Homo sapiens: one gene and its partners. The protein of the gene in region 7 purifies or fractionates together with the protein of the main gene of each other region. This does not show direct contact. Each region holds a gene or a part of one and is shown on either strand. Other genes may lie near its edges. The genes, in order: ALDH9A1, TRABD2B, ALDH1L1, TXNRD2, ACAA2, STARD7 and IVD.

Evidence for each region.
Region 1: the proteins of IVD (region 7) and ALDH9A1 fractionate together in Homo sapiens (co-fractionation; one large-scale study listed by BioGRID). This does not show direct contact.
Region 2: the proteins of IVD (region 7) and TRABD2B fractionate together in Homo sapiens (co-fractionation; one large-scale study listed by BioGRID). This does not show direct contact.
Region 3: the proteins of IVD (region 7) and ALDH1L1 purify together in Homo sapiens (co-immunoprecipitation; one large-scale study listed by IntAct). This does not show direct contact.
Region 4: the proteins of IVD (region 7) and TXNRD2 fractionate together in Homo sapiens (co-fractionation; one large-scale study listed by BioGRID). This does not show direct contact.
Region 5: the proteins of IVD (region 7) and ACAA2 fractionate together in Homo sapiens (co-fractionation; one large-scale study listed by BioGRID). This does not show direct contact.
Region 6: the proteins of IVD (region 7) and STARD7 purify together in Homo sapiens (co-immunoprecipitation; one large-scale study listed by IntAct). This does not show direct contact.

Annotation. Positions count from the first base shown.
Region 1 is NC_000001.11:165,692,063-165,695,562, reverse strand, and holds part of ALDH9A1 (4-trimethylaminobutyraldehyde dehydrogenase isoform 1 precursor), read left to right. Parts: intron 1-165; coding exon 166-311; intron 312-3,500. UniProt on the Homo sapiens protein: Converts gamma-trimethylaminobutyraldehyde into gamma-butyrobetaine with high efficiency (in vitro). Can catalyze the irreversible oxidation of a broad range of aldehydes to the corresponding acids in an NAD-dependent reaction, but with low efficiency.
Region 2 is NC_000001.11:47,773,886-47,777,385, forward strand, and holds part of TRABD2B (metalloprotease TIKI2 precursor), read right to left. Parts: exon of another isoform or gene 3,038-3,500; intron 1,555-3,037; coding exon 1,285-1,554; intron 1,125-1,284; coding exon of another isoform or gene 1,070-1,124; exon of another isoform or gene 1-1,069.
Region 3 is NC_000003.12:126,153,087-126,156,586, reverse strand, and holds part of ALDH1L1 (cytosolic 10-formyltetrahydrofolate dehydrogenase), read left to right. Parts: intron 1-1,083; coding exon 1,084-1,185; intron 1,186-1,943; coding exon 1,944-2,033; intron 2,034-3,005; coding exon 3,006-3,143; intron 3,144-3,500. UniProt on the Homo sapiens protein: Cytosolic 10-formyltetrahydrofolate dehydrogenase that catalyzes the NADP(+)-dependent conversion of 10-formyltetrahydrofolate to tetrahydrofolate and carbon dioxide.
Region 4 is NC_000022.11:19,910,819-19,914,318, reverse strand, and holds part of TXNRD2 (thioredoxin reductase 2, mitochondrial isoform 5 precursor), read left to right. Parts: intron 1-2,871; coding exon 2,872-2,942; intron 2,943-3,500. UniProt on the Homo sapiens protein: Involved in the control of reactive oxygen species levels and the regulation of mitochondrial redox homeostasis. Maintains thioredoxin in a reduced state. May play a role in redox-regulated cell signaling.
Region 5 is NC_000018.10:49,782,534-49,786,033, forward strand, and holds part of ACAA2 (3-ketoacyl-CoA thiolase, mitochondrial), read right to left. Parts: intron 2,819-3,500; coding exon 2,664-2,818; intron 1,399-2,663; coding exon 1,314-1,398; 3' UTR 1-1,313. UniProt on the Homo sapiens protein: In the production of energy from fats, this is one of the enzymes that catalyzes the last step of the mitochondrial beta-oxidation pathway, an aerobic process breaking down fatty acids into acetyl-CoA.
Region 6 is NC_000002.12:96,191,828-96,195,327, reverse strand, and holds part of STARD7 (stAR-related lipid transfer protein 7, mitochondrial isoform 1 precursor), read left to right. Parts: intron 1-320; coding exon 321-370; intron 371-1,975; coding exon 1,976-2,086; intron 2,087-2,167; coding exon 2,168-2,250; intron 2,251-2,859; coding exon 2,860-2,959; intron 2,960-3,500. UniProt on the Homo sapiens protein: May play a protective role in mucosal tissues by preventing exaggerated allergic responses.
Region 7 is NC_000015.10:40,415,795-40,418,801, forward strand, and holds part of IVD (isovaleryl-CoA dehydrogenase, mitochondrial isoform 1 precursor), read left to right. Parts: intron 1-283; coding exon 284-388; intron 389-495; coding exon 496-568; intron 569-2,335; coding exon 2,336-2,469; 3' UTR 2,470-3,007.

The DNA of each region.
Region 1 (3,500 bases), on a different chromosome or scaffold from region 7:
GATCGCGCCACTGCACTCCAGCCTGGGTGACAGAGCAAGACTCCATCTCAAGAAAAAAAAAAAAAAAAAAAAAAAGACTACTACTAAGAGAATATTGATAGATAATATTTTATTTAAATATGTGGCAACAATTTGAGTTAAAACTGATGTTTCCGCTCTTTATAGGCCGAGTGATAGCTACTTTCACATGTTCAGGAGAAAAGGAAGTAAATTTGGCTGTTCAAAATGCAAAGGCTGCTTTTAAAATATGGAGTCAAAAATCTGGCATGGAGCGTTGCCGAATCCTTTTGGAGGCTGCCAGGATAATAAGGGTATGTTCCAATTTATTTCCTTCCAGAACTCAGACATTGCTCTGAGGTTTCTTTGTGATGTTTGCAGTTCGACTTTGTTGCAACATTAGGCCGTAACGTTTTTATAAAATGGAAAAACATTTCCACATGCTCACCTTAGTATATAAAACAAGTTTTTGTTCAATACTTCCCATCTGGATGTTGGCTCTTGGACATCTCCTTTGGCAGGTTTTCATGTTTGTAAAGCTTTGTTTTGAATTATAATGCACTCTTTATAGCTCATCGTCCTTTTTTTATTTTTATTTTTTTTTTTTTTTGAGACGGAATCTTGCTCTGTCGCCCAGGCTGGAGTGCAGTGGAGTGATCTCGGCTCACTGCAACCTTCGCCTCCCGGGCTCAAGCAATTCTCCTGCCTCAGCTTCCCAAGTAGCTGGGACTACAGGTGTGTGCCACCATGCCTGGCTAATTTTTGTATTTTTCGTAGAGATGGATTTCACCATGTTGGCCAGGCTGGTCTTGAACTCCTGACCTCAAGTGATCCACCCACATCGGCCTCACAAAATGCTGGGATTACAGGCGTGAGCCACTGTGCCCAGCCTTTCTTTCTTTTTAAACCATGTGGTTTACTTGTTTCCTTTTTATTCTTTATTTTGATGATTCTCAAGTCTACCTTTCTTTTTCAGATTTGTTTTCAGATAGGGTTTTAAGTATCGTTACTTTAATTGGGAAGATTTCATAGATTTGTAGATGTTCCCTTTAAAAAAAAGAGAGTTAAACTTTTTTTTTACATCATAAATATATACAATTTTTATTTGTCAACTAAAAAAAATTGTAAAAACAAGTATTTAATACTCATCGCAAAACATAAAAAGCCTGCAATGCAAAGGGTTTCTGTGGTGTAGTAGTTACCACGCTGGCCTAACACACGGAAGGTCCTCTGTTTGAAACTTGACGGAAACAAAAGGTTTCTTTTGTTTCCCAGAATCTGACCAGGCTGCCTCTTCCTGGGAGTCCAGAGCTGCGAGGAACAAGTGATAATCCTGCCTCCTTTTTTTTTTTTTTTTATACTTAAGTTCTAGGGTACATGTACACAATGTGCAGGTTTGATACATAGGTATACAAGTGCCATGTTGGTTTGCTGCACCCATCAACTCACCATTTACATTAGGTATTTCTCCTAATGCTATCCCTCCCCCAGCCCCCCACCCCCTACGGCCCCGGTGTGTGATGTTCCCCACCCTGTGTCCAAGTGATCTCATTGTTCAATTCCCACCTATGAATGAGAACATGCAGTGTTTGGTTTTCTGTCCTTGTGATAGTTTGCTCAGAATGATGGTTTCCAGCTTCATCCATGTCCCTGCAAAGGACATGAACTCATCCTTTTTAATGGCTGCATAGTATTCCATGGTATATATGTGCCACATTTTCTTAATCCAGTCTATCATTGATGGGCATTTGGGTTGGTTCCAAGTCTTTGCTCTTGTGAATAGTGCTGCAATAAACATACGTGTGCATGTGTCTTTATAGTAGCATGATTTATAATCCTTTGAGTATATACCCAGTAATGGGATGGCTGGGTCAAATGGTATTTCTAGTTCTAGATATTTGAGGAATCGCCACACTGTCTTCCACAATGGTTGAACTAGTTTACAGTCCCACCAACAGTGTAAAAGTGTTCCTATTTCTCCACATCATCTCCAGCACCTGTTGTTTCCTGACTTTTTAATGATTGCCATTCTAACTGGTGTGAGATGGTATCTCATTGTGGGTTTGATTTGCATTTCTCTGATGGCCAGTGATGATGAGCATTTTTTCATGTGTCTTTTGGCTGCATAAATGTCTTTTTTTGAGAAGTGTCTGTTCATATCCTTTGCCCACTTGTTGATGGGGTTGTTTGTTTTTTCTTGTAAATTTGTTTAAGTTCATTGTAGATTCTGGATATTAACCCTCTGTCAGATGGGTAGATTACAAAAATTTTCTCCCATTCTGTAGGTTGCCTGTTCACTCTGATGGTAGTTTCTTTTGCTGTGCAGAAGCTCTTTAGTTTACTTAGATCCCATTTGTCTATTTTGGCTTTTGTTGCCATTGCTTTTGGTGTTTTAGTCATGAAGTCCTTGCCCATGCCTGTGTCCTGAATGGTATTGCCTAGGTTTTCTTCTAGGGTTTTTATGGTTTTAGGTCTAACATTTAAGTCTTTAATCCATCTTGAATTAATTTTTGTATAAGGTGTAAGGAAGGGATCCAGTTTCAGCTTTCTACATATGGCTAGCCAGTTTTCCCAGCACCATTTATTAAATAGGGAATCCTTTCCTCATTTCTTGTTTTTCTCAGGTTTGTCAAAGATCAGATGGTTGTAGATGTGTGGTATTATTTCTGAGGGCTCCGTTCTGTTCCATTGTTCTATATCTCTGTTTTGGTACCAGTACCATGCTGTTTTGGTTACTGTAGCCTTGTAGTATAGTTTGAAGTCAGGTAGCATGATGCCTCCAGCTGTGTTCTTTTGGCTTAGGATTGTCTTGGCAATGCAGGCTCTTTTTTGGTTCCATATGAACTTTAAAATAGTTTTTTCCAATTCTGTGAAGAAAGTCATTGGTAGCTTGATGGGGATGGCATTAAATCTATAAATTACCTTGGGCAGTATGGCCATTTTTGCGATATTGATTCTTCCTATCCATGAGCATGGAATGTTCTTTCATTTGTTTGTGTCCTCTTTTATTTCATTGAGCAGTGGTTTGTAGTTCTCCTTGAAGAGGTCCTTCACATCCCTTGTAAGTTGGATTCCTGGGTATTTTATTCTCTTTGAAGCAATTGTGAATGGGAGTTCACTCATGATTTGGCTCTGTGTTTGTCTGTTATTGGTGTATAGGAATGCTTGTGATTTTTGCACATTGATTTTGTATCTTGAGACTTTGCTGAAGTAGCTTATCACCTTAAGGAGATTTTGGGCTGAGACAATGGGGTTTTCTAAATATACAATCATGTCATCTGCAAACAGGGACAATTTGACTTCCTCCTAATTGAATACACTTTATTTTTTTCTCCTGCCTGATTGCCTTGGCCAGAACTTCCAACACTATGTTGAATAGGAGTGGTGAGAGAGGGCATTCATGTCTTGTGCCAGTTTTCAAAGGGAATGCTTCCAGTTTTTGCCCATTCAGTATGATATTGGCTGTGGGTTTGTCATAAATAGCTCTTATTATTTTGAGATAT
Region 2 (3,500 bases), on a different chromosome or scaffold from region 7:
ACCCCACAGTTTATGATAATGGGCTGGACCATGGCAACATTTTGGCATTGGCTCTGAGACCTGGCTGTAGGAGATTCATGAAGTGCAAAGTGCAAGAGGCAGCCCTTGATTCCTTGTGGGGACCCTGGTCAAACCCTCTCCGACTCAGGCCTTGGTTCACCATCTATAATGCACAGTGTAGTCAGGGCTTCCCACAGCTGCTCAGAAGAATCTCCAGGTGTACACGCAACATACAGAGTCCCAGGCCCTTGTCCTACACATTCTGATACATGAGGTCTGCGGTGGGGCCTGAGAATCTGTTTATTTAACGAATAGCCAAGGTGATTCTCTCTAGGGTTTCGGGGGAAAATCCTGGATGGCGATCTCTAGGGTCCAGATGGAGAGTCTAAGGCTCCCCCTGATAGAGACTCTGAGATGGAGACTCTATGACTGCTAAGCATGGCATATTCAGAGCTGGGCCAGTGCAGTGGGTAGGATTCTACCCCATCACTGACAGTCCCTCCCTGGGACATTCCTTGTGCTCTAGCAACACTGTTCACTAAATATGGAGACTCCTGCCAAAAAGTGGAATCTGGGGAAACTCCTGTGTACTGAGATTGCAGGCAGAGGTTGGAAGACAGCATCCTGGTCACAGCAGGACTTTGGTGACAGACAAGCTGAGGTGGGTGGTAGAGGTGGCAGGAGGGGCATATAGGAAGAGGACAGAAGGGTCTCCGTGCATTAGGATGATTTCTCCTATCTGTCCATTTTCAACAAGATATATCACAAATCCCCCATCCACTCCTAAGACAGAGCCCACAGCTTCAAGGGCATTGATCACCATCTATCCCATCTCTCTCTTAGAGCACGGTTCCCTTTGCAGCCTCCCTGCCAGGGTGTCGGCTACTCACAGCTTCTAGGCACAGGGAGCTCATGCCTTTTGGCTTAGCCAGCTTGTTCCATTTTCTCCTAGTTTCACCTCCAGTCCATGGGACAAATGGCGCCCTGTTTGTACAGGTGTGTCCCAGGAAAGCTGAGTGCAAAGCAGATTTGTGCGCTGTGCCTGAAGAAAGCTTCTATTTCCTCACCTTTAAGGTGCAGAGAATTGTACTTGTTGTTGAATTGCTTTTGTTTTGAGAATAAAACTGAAAAATCAGATGGGAACGTGCTGTAGAAAGCCACCTGCCACACTTCCTTAGAGCAGGGCTGGCCTGACGACAGTGTGCCCAGCTGTGGGGGGTTCAGGGTATACTATCCCGGGTGCAGACGCCCAGCTCCTGGGCAGACCTGCCCTCCCTGGCTCACCTGTCCTCGATGCGGACCCAGAGGTCATTGAACTGCCGCGGCCGCTGGTGTGTGCTCTGCCTCTTGTGCCACTTCCTCTGCCGGCCAAACTCCTCCAGCTGGCTGAGGCTGTCGGGGAGCAGGAGGTGTGGGGACAGGGCTGGATCCTCATCCTCTGGTGGGGCGGTGGGGGTCACAGAGGGTGCTTCGGGGACAGCGGCAGCTGGGGTCACTGGGGCCGGGCTCGTCGAGGTCCCCTCAGGAGAGGGCGCTGGGCTCTGGGGGGCAGGGCTGGAAAGAGGTAATGGCACATGGGGCACATGTGTTGGAGAATGTCATCCATGTGTGGTGGGAATACAGTCCAATTCAGTGGGAGTTTGTCATGGCAGGAGAAAGTGCCAGGGTGCCCCTGCTGGGCCCGGTGACAGCAGCCCAGGAAAACCTCGTCTGGTGCTGAAAGCCAGTGCTTTGAGTCATGCCTTCATTTGTTTAGTCGACGGATATTTACTGAGCACCAACCCTGTCCCAGGCACTTTTTTAGGAGGTAGGTATCAGCATGATGGAAACAGACAATGCCTCTGATCTCTGAGAGCTTACATTCCAAAGCAGCAGACAGAGAGTAAAACAGAGGATGCCAGACGCTGCTAACTGCCGAGGAGCAAATGAAACAGAGACAGGTGTGAGAGTGGGGGTGAAGGGTGCTACTCAGGGAAGGTGGTCTGGTCACCAGCAGGTGACATTTGAGCCCAGGCTAGGAAGACGTGAGGGAGCGAGCCCTGGGTACGTCTCTGGGGCGTATCTGAGCTTGGTCAGGGTCTCATTTATTCAACAACTCTGGCTGAGACTTTAGGTGAGTTTAACCTCACTGTGCCTCAGTCTCCTACGCTGTGAAATGGGGGTGTTGCAGACTCTATCTCACAGGGTACTTCATCAGGATTATGAAGGTGAACACCGGCAAAGCACCGAGAACAGTGTCTGGCAAATAGTAAGCAGCCAAAACATTTAAGTAATTAAGATTATTAGCATTGTGCATTCATCCAACCTTCCATTCATACATTCAATACACATTTCCTGTGCACCTTTTCAGTGGAGCAAAGACAGTGTTAAGTAGTCAGAGCTGGAGGTAGACTGATGTGGGTCCACAGCCCGGCTCCACAACTTGCAAGCCGTGTGATGAAGGGCAAGTTACTTAATCATATCAAGCAGCAATGAGCTATAGCACAAGAATAATAATACTACCTACTTCATGGGGTTGTCATGAGGATGAATGAGATGAGGTCTTAACACAGTGCCTGGCACATAAGCCTCTCTTGGATGTTGGCCGACAAGCAAATAGACCTGGCTGTCAGGCAGGCGCTAAAGTGTCATTTGTCACATTGTGGAATTCATGTTTTATACAGGGGCATACACGTGCACCGCTTAGCCCAAGGGCACCCTCTGTTTTTCTCCCTTTTATTCTTTCCTCTCCATGGCCACAATAGAATTTGTTTTAGGGACATGTGATCCTGGGAGAAGGTTGGGAATGGTTTCAGGAATTGTGGCTGAGTGGGCAGCTTGCAAGGTTAGACAGTACCCAAGACAGCAGGCAGGCCGTCTTCCCAGCCCACTCTCACACGGCACGATGGGTGAGGAGCTTCTCTCTTTGAAGGAAAGAAGGCCATCAGCTCAGCCTCTCCTCCCCTACCCCCATGGCAACCCCAGATTCTCAGGATTCAGGCTGCCTGGAGATGCCGCAGCTGCTGGGGAGATAATTCAAAACAGTCAGACAAAAAGCTAGATCCAGGAAGCACCTGTGGCCGATGATGGCTTTTATTGTTGGAGCCTCCTCAGCATTCCCGCCCCCCTCCGCCCTGCCAACTCCCTTGCTCCCCCGTGCAGGAGGCTAAGGCTGAGAGTCCTTGGAGCAGAGCCCATGGGGGAGCTGTGGAGGGCCCCCTCCCCTAATGCCTGGGCTCTGAGATGAATAGGAGGCTCGCTAGCCTCACTGGCCTGCCTGCCTCCCCTGCCCTGGCCAGAACAGACACAATGAGCTTCAAGGGGAAGGTCCTTGGGGCTGCTGGGGTGAGGGCTGGGGTGAGGGGAGAGGAGGGAAACTTGAAGAAGGCTTTGTCCCTGAGGCTACCTTGGAATCCCCAACCCTCAAACACATGCTTGCCCCTGGCCCCCAGTATAAACTAATGCGTGCTGGGCCCAAACGGTTCAGGTAGGAAGAGCAGCCTTGTCAGTTTGACTCAGAT
Region 3 (3,500 bases), on a different chromosome or scaffold from region 7:
CATATGTGAGGGCTGCTTGCCCCTGCCCGAGGACAGGCTGGCAGGGACGGCCACAGGCAGAGGTGCTGTCCAGGCATGCAGCAGGAGGGAAGGAGGCCCTGGGGAGCCCTTGCTGTTTGGGCGCAGCAGGAAGAGCAGCTGCAGTGTCCACTGTCCCCTCGTCCTCCTCAGCTCCTGGCCACTGCCTTTTATTTTTCGGTTGTGTTAAACTTGTCTTCCCCACAGATTGACCAGCTCACAAAAATAGTGAACAAAGTAGAGTTGCTGGAGATTTAGTGGTACAGAGAGGGAGCTTACCTGTGCTTCCCACGGCAAGCAACTCAAATACTCCTTGAAGCTGCACTGTCCAACAAGGCAGCCACTGGTAACATGCAGCTATTAAATCAATTAAAATGAATTATACTGAAAAATTCAGTTCCTCAGTCTCAGCCACATTCTAAGTCCCCTGGCCACCGTGTTGGACCGTGCAGACTTGGAACTCATCCATCACCACAGAGGGCTCCATTGGGCAGCCCTGCCTCAGATGCTCTGACACCCGGTCACTTCCCATTCTTGGCACCTCCCGGTCTCTTCCCTCAGGCTCTTGCTCACGTGGGCCCAGACTCCTTGGCTCTCCTTCTCCCTCTCTGATTCCTTTCCCACCACCTTCCTCTTTCCTGTCACAGAGAAACAACTTCCTGCTTCATCTCAGACCTCCAAACTTCCACCTTCAAGCCCACCACGGGGCTCAGGACCCACTCTCTTTAAAGGCAGAGAAGGCTTAGACAGCAACATGGACATTTGTGTCTGTGTTATACCTGCAGGGCTTTACAGTTTATATAATCATCTAAGATATCAGAAGATGTAAGATCTATGTAATCTAAACCTTTGCCAGGTAGAGAGGACGGGTCTGTGTCCGTTGTGCAATAGAAGTTAGGTTCACGCTGACTCCCTTGTTCATATGGCAGGTGTTTCTTGGGTGACTGCTGTGTACCAGGCAAGTCTGGTCAGTCTGGGGAAGGGTCCAGGCTCAATGTGGGCCCTGGGGCTGGGAAGGAGGCAGGGTCCTATTGCTGGGGATAGCAACCCACTGGATCTCCCCAGGTGCAGGCCGTGAGGCTGATCGCTGAGGGCAAAGCCCCCAGACTCCCTCAGCCTGAGGAAGGAGCCACCTATGAGGGGATTCAGAAGAAGGAGACAGCCAAGGTGAGTGCTGGGTCCCTCCACACCCTCATCCTGCCTGTGAGCAGACTGGGGTTGTAGAGGGCAGCCTGAGGAGGCTGGGGTTCAGCCCAGATGGTGCAGGTTGTAATTCTTTGAGGCCAGAACACAGGGCAGCCCAGGTCAGGGATGCATGAAGAGAGCCGTGGAGGAGGAGGACCCTGGCACCTGGGAGGGTAGCGAACAGGGTCCATTCCAGGTTCTTTCCTGTTCCTCTTTAGGAGGAATGGGCAGACAAAGCCCACAGGGAGATAAGAGTGGGAGTTAGGGGGCAAAACGTCAGCCGTAGTGCGAGCAGTCTTCAAGGCAAGGTGTGAGGGACAGTGCGGGTCTCTGGAGCAATAGCCAGTGGAGGAGCCTCAGAAGCCTGTAGGCTGTGTCTCAGCTCAGGAGTATGGGTTGCTGTGTGGGGACCCACAGGGGCCCTGCCAGTGAAAGGTTGGGCCCTATGGGACGGGCCTGAGTACATTGTGCTGGGGCCTCTGTGTAGGGTCTGGGCCATCTTGACAGCAACAGAACATTATCTTCCCCAAACCATTCTGAAGTCTGCTCAGCCCATGAGAGACTGAGGGTCAGAGAGCACCCAGAACTAGGGGCACCAGCTCAGGGACTCCTGCAAGTGTCTAAGAGGAAGCTGGGGTTACCAGCTGTCTCACAAGAGCTTGGTCCACTGTCCAGATGTCATCAGGGTGGGAGGGGAGTGAGGAGAGACCAGCTGAGCACACACACCTTGCTCCCCACAGATCAACTGGGACCAGCCGGCAGAGGCCATTCACAACTGGATCCGCGGGAACGACAAGGTGCCGGGAGCCTGGACAGAGGCCTGTGAACAGGTGTGTCCCTGCATGGCTGGAATCCAGCCACGTGCATTGGTGTATCCCACTGGCCATTAAACTGTCACACATGTTTGAACTGGTTGGTATAATAAATAGCTACTGCCCTGGCCCCTACTCCCACTGGGTGCCCCCTAAACATCCCAGCCTTTCCCCAGGAGTGAGAGACCTACCCAGCCTGCAGTAGCTAAAGGATAGATGTCCTGCGTAGCTGGAGGCCTCCAGGCCCTTGTAGTGCCCCTGGGGCCCAGCTGTATTGGTGGTGAAATATTTTGAGTCTCACCACTGGGCTTGCGGAGACCCCAGGCCCAGTACTCACTCTGACTTGGCCTCAGGCAGGGTGGAGCAGCACATTCAGGGCCAGGCTGACCGTGGGCAGGCCAGATGCTGAAGATGGGGAGACTTGGGGGTCACAGGCTCTAGTGAGGCATCAGGGGTGGCGGGACTGTGTGTGGTGGACTTTGTGCAAACCTTGAGGGCAGTCTTGTCCCCCACACAGTCTCAGACTCTCCAGACCCCTGACCCCCAGCCGACTGCCCAGACTGTGGCCAGAAGCCTCTCTGCTGTCCTCATCAACGCAGAGCCCTTTGTACTAGCAAATGCATCTTCTGATCAAAGCAACCACTCCTTGGCAGCACCCTGAAGGCAGGTAGCCTCATTCCGTGATGCCTGGAGCACATTCTCCCCCAGTCTGTGCACCTCAGGTCTGAGGCCATGGGCCAAGGAGAAGGGTCTTATGGCAGAGTTGAGGCAGACCTGCCATCAGCTCCCTGAGGCCACTGAGGCTCCTCCAGGTCTTGTTTGTGCCCCAGGAGAAAGGGCCTCAGGGGTCACATGGGCTTTGAGCCGGCTCCCAGGTCTCAGCTACCCCTGGCCCCTCTCCCTCTCCCAGCCCTGCTCAGACCTGCCTGGGCTACTGGCTTCGGGGGCTTCTTCTCACCCACCATCTTCTGATATTTCTCCCCTTGACAGAAACTGACATTTTTCAACTCAACGCTGAACACTTCAGGCCTGGTGCCCGAGGGAGACGCTTTGCCCATCCCAGGAGCCCATCGGCCAGGGGTGGTCACCAAAGCAGGACTCATCCTCTTTGGGAATGATGACAAAATGGTAAGGGCACGGCTGTGGGTCACTTGCCTGCTCAAAGCCACCCATGCTCCTGTCCTTGGACTCAGGCCTCACAGGAAGACCCTAGGCTCCTCTGGAGAAAATGGAAAAAACCAGACCCAGGAAGGAACACTGACCCTGATTTGTCCCTGACCACCCGGCTGGTCCTGAGCACAGGGTGTCCGAGGCAGTTTACCCACTTCTCTGTTCTGGGAAAGCTGGGCTCCCTACCCTTCCTGGCTAGGCACCCATCTCCAGGCTGAGTGCCCTGTGTGGGTGTCAGGCAACCTAGAATCAGAGAGAAGCCCTCCCAGGGAGCCTGGGTTCAGGGCCTCTCTTTGGTCTATCAGAAACACCTCT
Region 4 (3,500 bases), on a different chromosome or scaffold from region 7:
AATAGTGCCGCTGTGAACATCTGCAAAGAAGTTTTTTGGTGGACTTCAGTTTTCACTTCTCTTGGGTTACACTTAGGAGCAGAACTGCTGGGTCATGTGGTAACTTTATGTTGAATCTTTCAAGGAACGTTTCAAGGAACCTCAGACTGTTTTCCACAATGACTGTGTTTTACATTCCTTCCAGTGGGGTGTAAGGGTCATGGTTTCTTGTTTCTTCACGTATCTTGTAATTTTTTTATTGAAAGCTGAACATTTCAAATAATTTAATGCGATAACTTTGGAAACCAGATTCTCCCTCTGCCCCAGGATTCTGTTGTTACAGCTGCTTATTTGGTGACTTTTCGGAACTGACTTTGTAGACTCTTATTCTTTGATGTATGTGGCCACTGAAGTCTTTACTTGGTTAGCTTAGTGGTCAGCTAAGAACTGCATGGAGATTTCCCTAAACTAAGAACTCTCCCGGTCTTTGCTGAGGGCTCTGTGTGCGTTTGGAGGGGATGCCTTCCACACTCAACAGGCAGCAGACAGCTCTGCCCTAGCCTTCACTTCCTGCTTCTGCAGAGATCAAGGTCAGCTGGAGGTGAGGGTTCAGGGCCTCGTTGGTCCTTCCTGATGTGTGCACAGTGCTGTGCATGCGCCTGGCCTAGGTTCCCAGGAATATGCTGGAACCTTTCAAAGCTCCAGCAGACATCTCATACTTTGGCTTTTCCTTTGAAGCTTTTTGGGCAGTCTGTTGTTGGCTCTAACTGTTACCTATCCCCTCAGGCAGCTGTGAGAAGAAAACCTCAGACAAATGCCCCCAGAGAAAGGCTTTTAGCCCTGGCTGAGCTCCGGTGAAGTTGGATGAAGATGACCCTATAGTTGCTGACTCTGACTCTTCTTTGTGGGGGGGCTTTGAAAGACCCCAGCTGAGTTCTGCTCTCTCTGACACATCACTGTTCAGGGCTGCCGCTGAGGTGGGAGTGGGACCAGAGTGAGTTAAAACACCCTGGAGTTCCCATTCTCACTCAGCTTCAGCTGTTTTTCCTGACTTTAAATGTTCCCTGTGTTGCTGCAAGCCTGTGGTTAATTTCCATAATTCTGAATCTCCCAGTTCTTGCCAGTTTTATCGCTGTTTTTAACAGAGAGGTGAATAACTCCTGGCCCAGTCTTGTGGGTTGTGGGGGCAGAGTTGAGGAAGGGGCCCCGGGGTGAGGGGTTGGGGGGCAGCTGCAGCAGGGAAAGCAAATGGGCTGGGGGTGAGCAGAGAGGTTTGGCTGAGACCAGTCCCCACGGGTCTCCCAGGGAACCGTGTGCCGCCTGCTCCAAGCCTCTAAGTAGGCTGCAGCCAAGCTCTTGAAGACCACGGCTCTCTCGGCCTGGAGGCCACACCACCTCTGACTTAGACCCAGGGGCAGTCCGGTGGAGGCAGAGCAAGGGGAGGTTCTGCCACTTCTTGGATGTGACCCCAGCCTCCACTTCGTCCTGTGCTTACTGTGGAAACAGGGAAAGGAGCGGCCCCGAGGAGCACAAGCACCCCCAGTCCTTAGAGGCCGTGGGACTTGTCTGGCCGCCAGGCAGCCACAGCAGCCTCTAGAGGGGGCAGGTTGCTTATGCACAGAGGTGGGGCTCAGGGCTGCGTGACTTTGTAGGATGACACTGTGCAGTTGTTCAAGGCAGCTGCTGCAGACAGGGTCCCAGTGATCCCCTCTCCTGGCAGCTGGGCTCATGGTGGTTCTGCTTAAAGAAGGCCACAGCCAGCTTCCAGCAGCCCAGCGGTCATTGGGTTTCTCTGAGGCCCCAGGCAGAGCTGCACGTGCATCCGCACCAGGGAGCACTGCACAGGGGCCCTGGCCTGGCCCGGCCCTGCTCTGCACCTCACGGGCAGCTGCTGACGGCTCTTTGGGCTCACAGGGGATCCAGCAGGCGCTCCTGGTCCTTAGGAGGCAGGCAGCTCAGGGCTGCTTCGCTCTCCCTGCCACGCCCTCCCAGGGTGTCTGCCAAGGCTTGCTTGCGTTTTAGTCCCTTTGATTGCCAGACCTTTCGGTTTTCCTTGAGTAAACCTGAGAAATTCCTGACTTTATTTTTTTTTGCCAGTTGGAAGCATAAACTGTTTGAGATCCGCTTCCTCCACCAGCACATCTTGTTCTCATGGCCGCTAAGGGGACGTTCACCCTGGGCCTCCCACCTGCTTGGCCGCCCCTCTTCAGGTGACCTGTATGATTTCTGGGCTCAGAGCCCACCCGGGCCAGCCCTCGAGAGTGTGAAGTCCGTCCTGGCTTCAGCCAGGTGCCCTCAGAGCTGCCCCTCAGTCCCTGCCCACCTCAGCCTGTGGCACTTACCCCCTGTGCCTCCTCTCCTCTGGCTGGCCTTGTAGGCCACCCCTGCCGCGCAGACACACCTGAGCTCTGCTGGCCCTGATTTGCTGACCTGTTCTCTCCCCACTTCCTCTCTCTGAGTTTGGATCCCCCAGAACCCAGGTGTTGCTCCCTGGGGCTGCATGCCCCTGTCTGTTTGATGTGTCTGTCCAGAACCCGGGCAGACTTGAGGGGTCCCAGCTGTCTGCCTGTATGGCCCCTGCAGTTGCTGTACCCACCTCAGGCCCTGTATCCTGCTCTGAACCAGGGTCAAGGGGAGGGTCCTGGGGAACAGAGGGGAAAGGTACCCTGCGAGGGCACCGGGACCTGGAGTGCAGCAGCTTAGATGCAGACAGGCCACCTGCAGCCCCAAAGAGGCCACAGCCTGCAGACAAGGACTGGCAGCAGGGAAGCCCTGTGCATGTGTGCCCTGGGAAAGCTCTGCTTGATTCTGCAAAGCTGGCATCCTCTTTAAGGAAGCCCTAGGACAGGCCAAATGGAGCTCTTGTCCAAGGGGTCATTTCTGTCTTGACAGATCGAAGGTGCCTTGGAATATGGAATCACAAGTGATGACATCTTCTGGCTGAAGGAATCCCCTGGAAAAACGTAAGGCCTGCGCGTGCTTGGTGGGGTCCTCTTTTTGTTCACCAGAGTGAGCACTGGACCCTTAGAGCCTGTGCTGGTGCTGGGCTCCTGGGGCTTTCTTTCCGGTTTACCCAAAAGAAGGAAAAAAGGCCTGTTATTTGTGGCCAGGTGTGGTGGCTCATGCTTGTTAGCCTAGCACTTTGGGAGACTGAGCGGGAGGATTGCTTGAGGCCAGGAGTTCGAGATCAGCATCAGCCTGGGCAATATAGTGAGACCTCTACTCTACAAAAATCTGTTTTGGTTTTTTTTTTGGCTTTTTTTTTTAGGTGAATTCTCACTCTGTCCCCCAAACTGAATTGCAATGGCCCAATCTTGGCTCACTGCAATCCCTGCCTCCCAGGTTCAAGTGATTCTCCTGCTTCAGCCTCCAAAGTAGCTGAAATTACAGGCGCCCACCACCACATCTGGCTAATTTTTGTATTTTTAGTAGAAATGGGGTTTCACCATCTTGGTCAGGCTGGTCTTGAACTCCTGACCTCAGGTGATCCGCCCACCTCGTCCTCCTAAAGTGCTGGGATT
Region 5 (3,500 bases), on a different chromosome or scaffold from region 7:
CAAGATGCTATCTCAAAAAAAAAAAAAAAAGGCCGGGTGCAGTGGCTCACGCCTGTAATCCCAGCACTTCTTTGGGAGGCCGAGGCGGGTGGATCACGAGGTCAGGAGATCGAGACCATCCTGGCTAACACGGTGAAACCCCATCTCTACTAAAAATACAAAAAATTAGCCGGGCGTAGTGGCAGGCGCCTGTAGTCCCAGCTACTGGGGAGGCTGAGGCAGGAGAATGGCATGAACCCAGGAGGCGGAGCTTGCAGTAAGCTGAGATCGCGCCACTGCACTCCAGCCTGGAGGACAGAGCGAGACTCTGTCTCAAAAAAAAAAAAAAAAATTTCCCCCCAATAAATGTATAACCCATAAATTCAATTTAATCTTAATTAAAATTTCCAGTGGCTCTTTGATGAAGTTAACAAGAATAGGGCCTTGCCCTACTAGATATCCAGTCTTAGAACAGACAAATAAAGCAATGGAAGTGTTGTGGGGGCATTTTAAAGGGAGAAAATAAAGGATGAAAGATGGCCTTTAAGCTGGGAAGAAGGAAGTAAGGTTTATACACACAGCAGAATATTATTCAGCCTTTAAAAAGAAGGAAATTCTGACACATGCTACACCATAAGGTGGATGAATCTTGAGAACATTATATAAAGTAAAGTAAAATAAGCCAGTCACGAAAGGACAGATATTTATAATTTCACTTATGAGGTACCTCGAGTCATCAAATTTATAGAAACAAAATACACTGGTGGTTGTCAGGGGATGGGGGATGGGAGAATCAGGAGTTATTGTTTCCATGTGTGGTGACTGAAAAAGTTCTGTTGATAAAAAGTGGGGATGTTTGTATAAAAATGTGAATGTACTTAATACCAGTGAATTGTACGCTAAAAAAGGGTTAAGATGGTAAAGTTTATGTAATGTGTATCTTATCACAATTTAAAATTTTTAAAAATATAAATGACAGGAAAATATTAACTGAAGTTAAGGCAACATTTATTTGATTTCCTTATAATCATATTATCTAAGGCAGAAGTGGTGGTTACTTGGCAAGAATACGATTTCTTTTAATGTCTTCTATAGTTGAGTTTTAGCTCAGAAATACATCATATTTCACTGGTTCAAATCTGAGAGAATGTACTTCTAGCATGGGCTCCTATTCATGATCAATGCATTTTTGTGTCACCATGGCTTGATCAAACTTAATCACTGTTTCAATGGCAGGGCATGGCCAGTTGTGGCAGCTGCTCTGAAGGTCACTTGTTTTACTGTGGCCTGGCCAAGTAGAGTAAGGATGGGTCACAGTGAGCTCACTGGTCTCTTCAGGCTGTGCTCTGAATGATGACAGCAATACCTTGGCCACCTCCAATGCAAGCTGATCCAACGGCATATTTTCCACCTCGACGCCTGAAAAAGAAAGCAGTGACTGAAATCTACTCTAATAAAAAATCAGATTAATGAAATAGAACTAATAACATCACATCTGCATTACTCATCCTTATTCAGCTCATCTGCTCAATCTTTTCCCCAGTCCTCAATTTTGGTATAATTACAACAGGCAACAGACTTTGGAAAGCTGAAAGTTTTTAATCAAAAAAAACAAAAAACAAAGAACAAAAACAAACACCAGAAGAGGGAGGCAAACTAAAAAGGAGATGAGTGGATTTAGGGTTATAGAGTAGATTTAGGGTATATGAAACACATACAGAAGCTTGTGTGTGTTACGGGAAAGGAGTGAGAAGAGGAGGTAACTGGATAAATGGGAAGCTGGGGAAGGGGATGAACATTAAGCTCCTTTGATTTATATATTTGATTTATATAGTGTGAGAGCCTCATGGCACCTTAGAAGAAATGTAATTAATAAAGTTTGTCCCTATGAAAGGGCAGATAATTTAGAAACTATCCATGTCCCTTTCATAAAAATTAGACTCTTTTAAAGTACTCCTCACTCCTAATATGATGACTTCGAGAAAATTATCCAGGAATTACTTTTGTATGTGGCAATCACCTATTTCAACTCAGGGAATCATTAAGTGAAATAAGAGTCACATTTCCCCTGGCCTAACAGGGAGTCAGAGTAATTTTTCAGCCTGACTTACTTGGTTTTGTTTGCAATTTTTCTACAGAGCAAAATATTCCAAAAATAGAAGAGCTCCTCCTTCTGGTACTATCTATCAAAACTGAAAAGCACCAAACACCCAAAAGGTTCCTCCTGGAACCCTGCAAGCAGTGAAAAGAAAAACTTAGACCCAAATGTCAGTTTGCTTAGATTTCATAAATTATGGCATCTAGATCAGTACTCACTCAGTACTTTTTTTTTCTAAAATAGATTTATTTTACTCCTGTAACTGGCACTAAAATACAAGTGCCATGAGAAGCAGGGCCTCATTATCTGCTCATGCAGTGAACACAAGCTGAGTGGGGCACACAGTGCACAGAGACTGGACACACAGAGGAAGAGCTTGGTTCTTAAGTGCAAAGCCACTAACAAGGTGACTGACTCATCTATGAGACCAGATGAAAAGCACTGCCCAAGTAACTTGTTCCTGGTAACAGCCAGTGCAGGAGACATGAAGAAGAATGAAAAATGTTGGAGTGTTCTGGGGAAGCCTAAATCCATGCATTTCTATAAAAAACAGCAAATCTGAAATGCAGCTATTTCTAGCAAATACCTTAATTCGTGAACCAGGTGTGCAGTAATTCTTGATCCAGATCCTCCCAGTGGGTGACCCAAAGCAATGGCTCCTCCATTCACATTGGTTTTACTTATGTCAAGATCCAAACTCCTCTCAACAGCCAAGTACTGGGGAGCAAAAGCTTCATTCACCTTAAAACAAAAATTAGAGCACTAACAAAAATCCTTACTCACAAACTAATTTTTAAATGAGAATGGTCCAGTCCTATCAACAGCTAAGTCTGCTGTTTCTTCCTATTTAAATTACCTCGCAAAGTTATTTTATCTACAATCATTCTGCATAAAGCTATCAGGTTTAAAATGTGTATATTTACTAAATAATACTTTTAGTCAAATGCATCCCTTAGAGGCAATTCTCAGTAATCCCATAAATTGACACATACCAGACACAGTGGGATACTGTAGAAAGCCCACAGGTTTTAGAACTGGATGGATGGTTCAAATATTGGCTATACCATTTGTTAGGGTGTGACCTTATGCATATTCTTTAAACTCTTTAAATTCACGTTTCCGCGTGTGAAAATGTGACTGTGGTATCATGCTAAGAGTCACTGTCACAGTTAGATAAAATCATGAGTATTAAGTGTCCAGTGTGTTACCTGAAACATGGCAAGTACTCAATAAGTGGTTGCAAGTATTATTATTATTATGCAGTACTAGGAGCTATCCTTCCAAGAAGCTGACACACAACAAAGAATAAACCTTCAAAGCCACGTACATAAAGGGAACAGTTACTATGTTGAAATGTGGCAGAACTGAAAAGTATATTATGTTATACTTACACAAACTGGCAATTACCTTACTTCAAGTTTAC
Region 6 (3,500 bases), on a different chromosome or scaffold from region 7:
GGCTATCTTTTGGGTTCCATAGTTGCACAGGTGCATGGGATTTCTGTTCTTCATACTTCTCTAAACTGTTCTGGTTGTTTCTCAGAAAATTTGCCGTAGTTTTTTGTTTATTGTTTTTCTTCTCCCAGATGACAAATGTCTCAGTGTTGTCTTTGCTTACATCCTCTTTGTCTTTCTTTGTTGCTCTACTAAGACTTCTAGTTTCTGAACCTGCCTTTAAGATCTCTTAGTACTTTAGATCTGAAACGCCGCTAGGTGAAAGAAACAAGGCGAGTGACTGGAGTATGGCCAGCATCCCTTATTCTTTCTTTTCATTCTAGTTTTTGGAACCTACACAGATGTGACACCTCGGCAGTTCTTCAATGTTCAGGTGAGTTAATTTTTCTCTCCAGATTTGGAGCCTCCTAGCATATCAATTGCTACTGTCTACATGAATCATTTATCTGACTCAGGTGACATTGGCTTAAGTACATCCATCTATCTACCTGTCATCCACATTGCATAGCATTTAGGTAAACATTTGACTTAGAATTTCTTTATCTGTCCCATGGGGATGAGATCAGTTTTACCCTCCCACAGGACTGTTGGGAATATCAGATAGAGGAATGGATATGAATACTTTAATGTATTTTATGAGGCTTTATTGTTTTTTTCCCCAAACAACTTAAGAGTAAGTTACATACATCATAGTCCTTTACTCCTAAATTCTTCCAGTGTGTATTTCCTAAAACTAGCCATATGCCGTATTTCTTAACTAATCATGATACCATTATTGAAATTAGTAAATTTAACACTGATGGAACACTTTCATGTAGTCCTCTGTTTGTATTTATCAGTTTTATCAGTTGACTCAATGTCCTTTATAGCATTTTCCACTTCAGTACAGATAGGATTATATTTAGTTGTCACATCTGTTTAACCTCAAATCAAGAACATTTCCATAGTGGAGGGTTTTTTTTTTTCTTTCCTCTCCCTGAGACAGGGTCCTGCTGTGTTACCCAGGCTGGAGTACAGTGGTGTGATCATGTCTTGCTGCAGCCTTTGTTTCCTGGACTCAAGTGATCCTCCCACCTCAGCTTCCAGGCCTACAGGCATGCGCCACCACACTTGGCTAATTAAAATTTTTTTTTCTTAGAGACAGGGTCTCCCTATGTCTCCTAGGCTGGTCTTGAACTCCCTGGGCTCTAGTGATCCTCCTGCCTTTGCCTCCCAAAGTGCCGGGATTACAGGTGTGAGTCACTGTGTTGGCCCAATGTTTATTTCATAAAGATGAAGAGTATCTGTTCAAAGACTGCTTTCCTCCTTGTAGGGGAAGATGGTTTAAAAAATGAAACAGGGAGGTGGGATCGCCCAGAGTTCTAGAACAAAATTTTTTTCTTTCTGGATTTTTCATTTGTTTTGCTGACTTCCGATAACTACTTCGTTGGTTATAACACTCACTCTAACGTGCAAGTGCACTTTCCCTGAGGTACTGGATCTTGTTAATTTGTAGTGAATTTTTGTTGGTTTTATGTATATGGTATATCTGTCTTAAGTTGAAAATCTTCAGTTACTAGTGATGCCAGAAATTTAAAAAAATATGCTGCTTGCATTTTTGTGTGTGAAGTGTCTACTTAATACTTTTGGACTTTTTGTTGTTTAAAACTTTTTAGAATTGTCTTACCCTTACACATTCATATCACTATATATTATTTTCCCCAGATGTGTCTATTAAAATATTTTGTTACACTTTTCCTTGGTTTGTCTAATGAAGATTCACATTCAGTGTAATGACATTAGCCTGTATAAGGTGATTTTGAAAGAAACATCTGTAGTAAACACAGCCATGTCTCTCACACTCTGGCACTGTCTGTTAGGTCAGATTACTCTCTCCTTGTAATAAGATTCTTGGATCAGAGACCAAAGCATCTGGAAAGCTTTCTGCATTTTTGTTTTGGGTCTTCTTGGGTATTCATGGTCTTTTCTCTTTCTGCAGCTGGACACAGAGTATAGAAAAAAATGGGATGCCCTGGTAATCAAGCTGGAGGTGATTGAGAGGGATGTGGTTAGTGGTTCCGAGGTTCTTCACTGGGTAACCCATTTTCCTGTGAGTATTTTTACTTCTGATTTTATTTCTGTCCAGGTTTGTGTGATGCAGAACACTAATCCTGCTCCTCCATTTCTTTAGTATCCAATGTACTCACGGGATTATGTTTATGTTCGGCGGTATAGTGTGGATCAGGAAAACAACATGATGGTGTTGGTGTCGCGGTATGTATGGCTGCCTGTGGCTGTTGCCGAGTTCCTTTAGCTGTGGCCTTCATTCCTACGTACCTGAGTTTGTATATTCTTAGTGTCCTATGAGTCTCCCACAGGCTTCCCTGCAGCCAGTGCCCCTTCCATCCAGCTAGAAGATGAGGGACTCTGACTGTCTAGAAAGAATGGAGAGATACAAGCTTTTAGTTAAACTGTTTTTTTGGGTTCTTTAATGTTGGTAATCAAAAGAAGTGCTGTTGTTTTTGACCCACAGCCTAGTGAGCCGTAAATTACCAAAGGAACTCACTTCATTTTTAATTAATTCATTTGTTTGTTGTAGACGCAGGGTTTCACAGTGTGGTCCAGGCTGGTCTTGGACTCCTGGCCTCAAGTGATCTTCCTTCCTTGGCTTCCCAGTGTTGGGATTACAGGCATGAGCCACCACGTCTGGCCTTCGCTTCATTTTTAGAACTTAGTTTGTATTTATTCATCTTAGTGACTCCTTTGTTTTGTGTATTTAAAAATATCAGAGCCAGCTTTTTAGGCCTTCCCCTTAACTTAGCTCTCCTGTTGTTTTATATATAGACATTACTAAGAGTTTGCTTCTCCTTTCCTCCTTACCAGTGCTGTGGAGCATCCGAGTGTGCCAGAGTCTCCAGAATTCGTCAGGGTCAGATCATATGAATCCCAAATGGTTATCCGTCCCCACAAGTCATTTGATGAGGTGAGTTTTACCTCATCCAAGAGATAACATGTCATGGCTGTGGAATTTTCTCAAGGGATGTCTTACCTGAACTAGGGAGGAGGGGGTGTGGCGCAGGAACAGTTCTCGCTCGGGGGAGTCTGATGCTACTGGTCTGGGAACCATTTTTTGGGAACTCCTGACGTAGGTGATGTACCTGGAAGTTCCCCAAGGACAAAGTAGTGGCAATCCATTGGTTCCCTCTTATCTGAGAGATAGTTAAAAGAATCATAGCCACTGACGCATTAGCCTGTATCAGTAGCATTCTTCAGGAACTAGAGCGAGTACCTCCTGTCAACATTTTACTACAGTGGGCAGAGCACTGGATGGAAACTTTTCTGGATTTCTGCTTCCTTGCCAGAGTAATGGGAAGATTGGACTCATGCTGTCTGCCTTCTTTAAAATTCTGTGACCTTTCTTTGAAAAGAATATTTATTTCAGCCTAATGAGGTGTTTTGTGTTTATTTTTTATCTTTTTAAGCTAAATCTCCACTGAGAGTATAGATATTGATGCTAGTGGCTG
Region 7 (3,007 bases):
AAGCTGCTGGAAGGTAATAAGCATTGGAGTAAATGGTGCCTTGGGAGCCATGCCTTTCGGAGGCAGTGATGGCCACTTCGGGGTGTCATGCGGGCTGTGGAACAGCCACTCTGTGGCCCTAACTCCCACACCTGCCCCCATCTCCATCATCCTGAGTAAATCCCATCTCCTCTCCATGCCCCTGCTTCCTCATCCTTGGCTGTCTTGTTGCCATTGCTGACCTGCTTTTGGTAACTGAGAGAGTGTTCCAGCATGTTGACCTGTGACATCCCTTTGTGCCCAGTTGATGCAGGGGAAGATGGCTGACATGTACACCCGCCTCATGGCGTGTCGGCAGTATGTCTACAATGTCGCCAAGGCCTGCGATGAGGGCCATTGCACTGCTAAGGTGAGGGCCAGCCTCAGTCGGGGAGAGGCGGGGGCAGTGGACCAGCTGCTGAGACTTGCTGTCTGCGTGCCTCGCAGGGCCCTGCTGACCCCAGCTTCCTCCCGTAGGACTGTGCAGGTGTGATTCTTTACTCAGCTGAGTGTGCCACACAGGTAGCCCTGGACGGCATTCAGTGTTTTGGTGAGTGATCCCCACTTCCCAGTCCCGGGGCTCCCTCACTCCTGGGGCCTGTGGCTGCTTCAGAAAGCAGTTTCAGGGCGGGCGTGGTGGCTCACACCTATAATCCCAGCACTTTGGGAGGCCGAGGTAGGCAGATCACCTGAGGTCAGGAGTTCAAGACCAGCCTGGCCAACATGGTGAAACCGCATGCCGGGCATGATGGTGCATGCCTGTAATCCCAGCTACTTGGGAGGCTGAGGCAGGAGAATCGCTTGAACCCGGGAGGCAGAGGTTGCAGTGAACAAAGATTGCACCATTGCACTCCAGCCTAGGTGACAGAGCGAGAGGCTGTCTCAAAAAAAAGCAATTTCCTCTCCACTTCTCCACTCCTCACTATGTGCTTATGCTAGGCCCAGCTGAGCTGGGACCTTCGGGCTCTTTCTGTCCCAGTTACAAGGAGGAAATGGAAAGCAAATGAGAAAACTGCTAGATGCCAGGAGTTGCTGCTGCCTTCGGCAACACCCCCCTCTCATCCTCCCCGCCTCATAGATGCTAGGAAATGGGAAAGGGAGATGTGGCTGGGCACAGTGGCTCACACCTGTAATTCCAACACTTTAGGAGACTGAGGCCAGTGAATCACCTGAGATCAGGAGTTTGAGACCAGCCTGGCCAACATGGTGAAACCCTGTTTCTACTAAAAATACAAAAAAAAATTAGCCAAGTGTGGTGGCAGGAGCCTGTAATCCCAGCTATTTGGAAGGCTGAGGCTGGAGAATCTCTTGAACCCAGGAGGCGGAGGTTGCAGTGACCGGAGATCGCGCCATTGCACTCCAGCCTGAGTGACAAGAGTGAAACTCCGTCTCGGAAAAAAAAAAAAAAAAAAAGGCCGGGCACGGTGGCTCACACCTGTAATCCCAGCACTTTGGGAGGCCGAGGCAGGTGGATCACCTGAGGTCAGGAGTTCGAGACCAGCCTGACCAACGTGGTGAAACCCCATCTCTACTAAAAATACAAAAATTAGCTGGGTGCAGTGGTGCGCGCCTGTAATCCCAGCTACTCAGGAGGCTGAGGCAGGAGAATCACTTGAACCTTGGATGCGGAGGTTGCAGAGAGCCAATATCATGCCACTGCACTCCAGCCTAGGCCACAGAGCATGACTCCAAAAAAAAAAAAAAAAAAGCTAAATGGAAATTTCTAGAAATAGTTCATAAGTTTCAAATCCACACCATCCTGAATAGCTTGAAGTGTTGTGCCATGCTGCTCTGTCATGTTTGGTACGTGAATCGTCCCTTTGTGCAGCCTATCTATGCTATGTGGGCTACCTGCCCGTTAGTAGTCACCTAGGGTATCCAATCAGCTGTCCTGATATCAGAGTGCCTGTGTTCAAGTAACTCTTATTTTGCTCAGTGGCCCCAGATTGCAAGAGTAGTGATGCTGGCATGTCATAATAGTTCTATTTTAGTATTTGTTATTATTGTTGATCTGTTACTATGCCTAGCTCATAAATTAAACTTTCTCATAAGTATGTATGTATAGGGAAAAAAACAACATATATATGGGGTTCGGTACTATCTACGGTTTCAGGCATCCACTGGGGTCTTGGAATGTATCCTCCAAGGATAAGGAAGGACTAGTGTATTCCCCACACCCCTCCCTCTTGCTACCTTTTGCTGCTTTTCTTTAATCACCCTCTCCTCCTGTGGCCTGTTTCTATATACTTGGCATTCTGTTTGCTTTCTTTGTTTTGTCAATCACTTCCTTTCTTCTCTGCCCAAACCCTGGTTGCAGGTGGCAATGGCTACATCAATGACTTTCCCATGGGCCGCTTTCTTCGAGATGCCAAGCTGTATGAGATAGGGGCTGGGACCAGCGAGGTGAGGCGGCTGGTCATCGGCAGAGCCTTCAATGCAGACTTTCACTAGTCCTGAGACCCTTCGCCCCCTTTTCCTGCACCTAGTGGCCTTTCTTGGGAAGTAGAGATGTGGCGGCTTTCCCACCCTGCCCACAGCAGGCCCTCCTGCCCAGCTGCTCTTGTCAGCCCTCTGGCCTCTGGATGAGGTTGAGTTCTCCACAACAGCTCCCAAGCATCATGGGCCTCGCAGCCGGGCCTGTGCCACGGCTAGTGTTGTGTGATTTAAAATGGACTCAGCAGGAAGCATATTGTCTGGGGATTGTTGGGACAGGTTTTGGTGACTCTGTGCCCTTGCTCTCTAACTTCTGAGCCCACCTCCCAGGGTAGGCACCTGGGGGCATGCAGGTGCCCACCTCCCAGGGTAGGCACCTGGGGGCATGCAGGTACCCACCTCTTTCTCTTGGGTGAGGCTCTGGCAAGGAGATCTCTCTGCTCAAGCACAGCAGAATCATGGCCCCTCTCCATGAATTGGAACTTGGTACAGGTTAAGTATCCCTAATCCTGAAATCTGAAACACTTGTGGTTCCAAGCATTTTGGATAAGGCAAA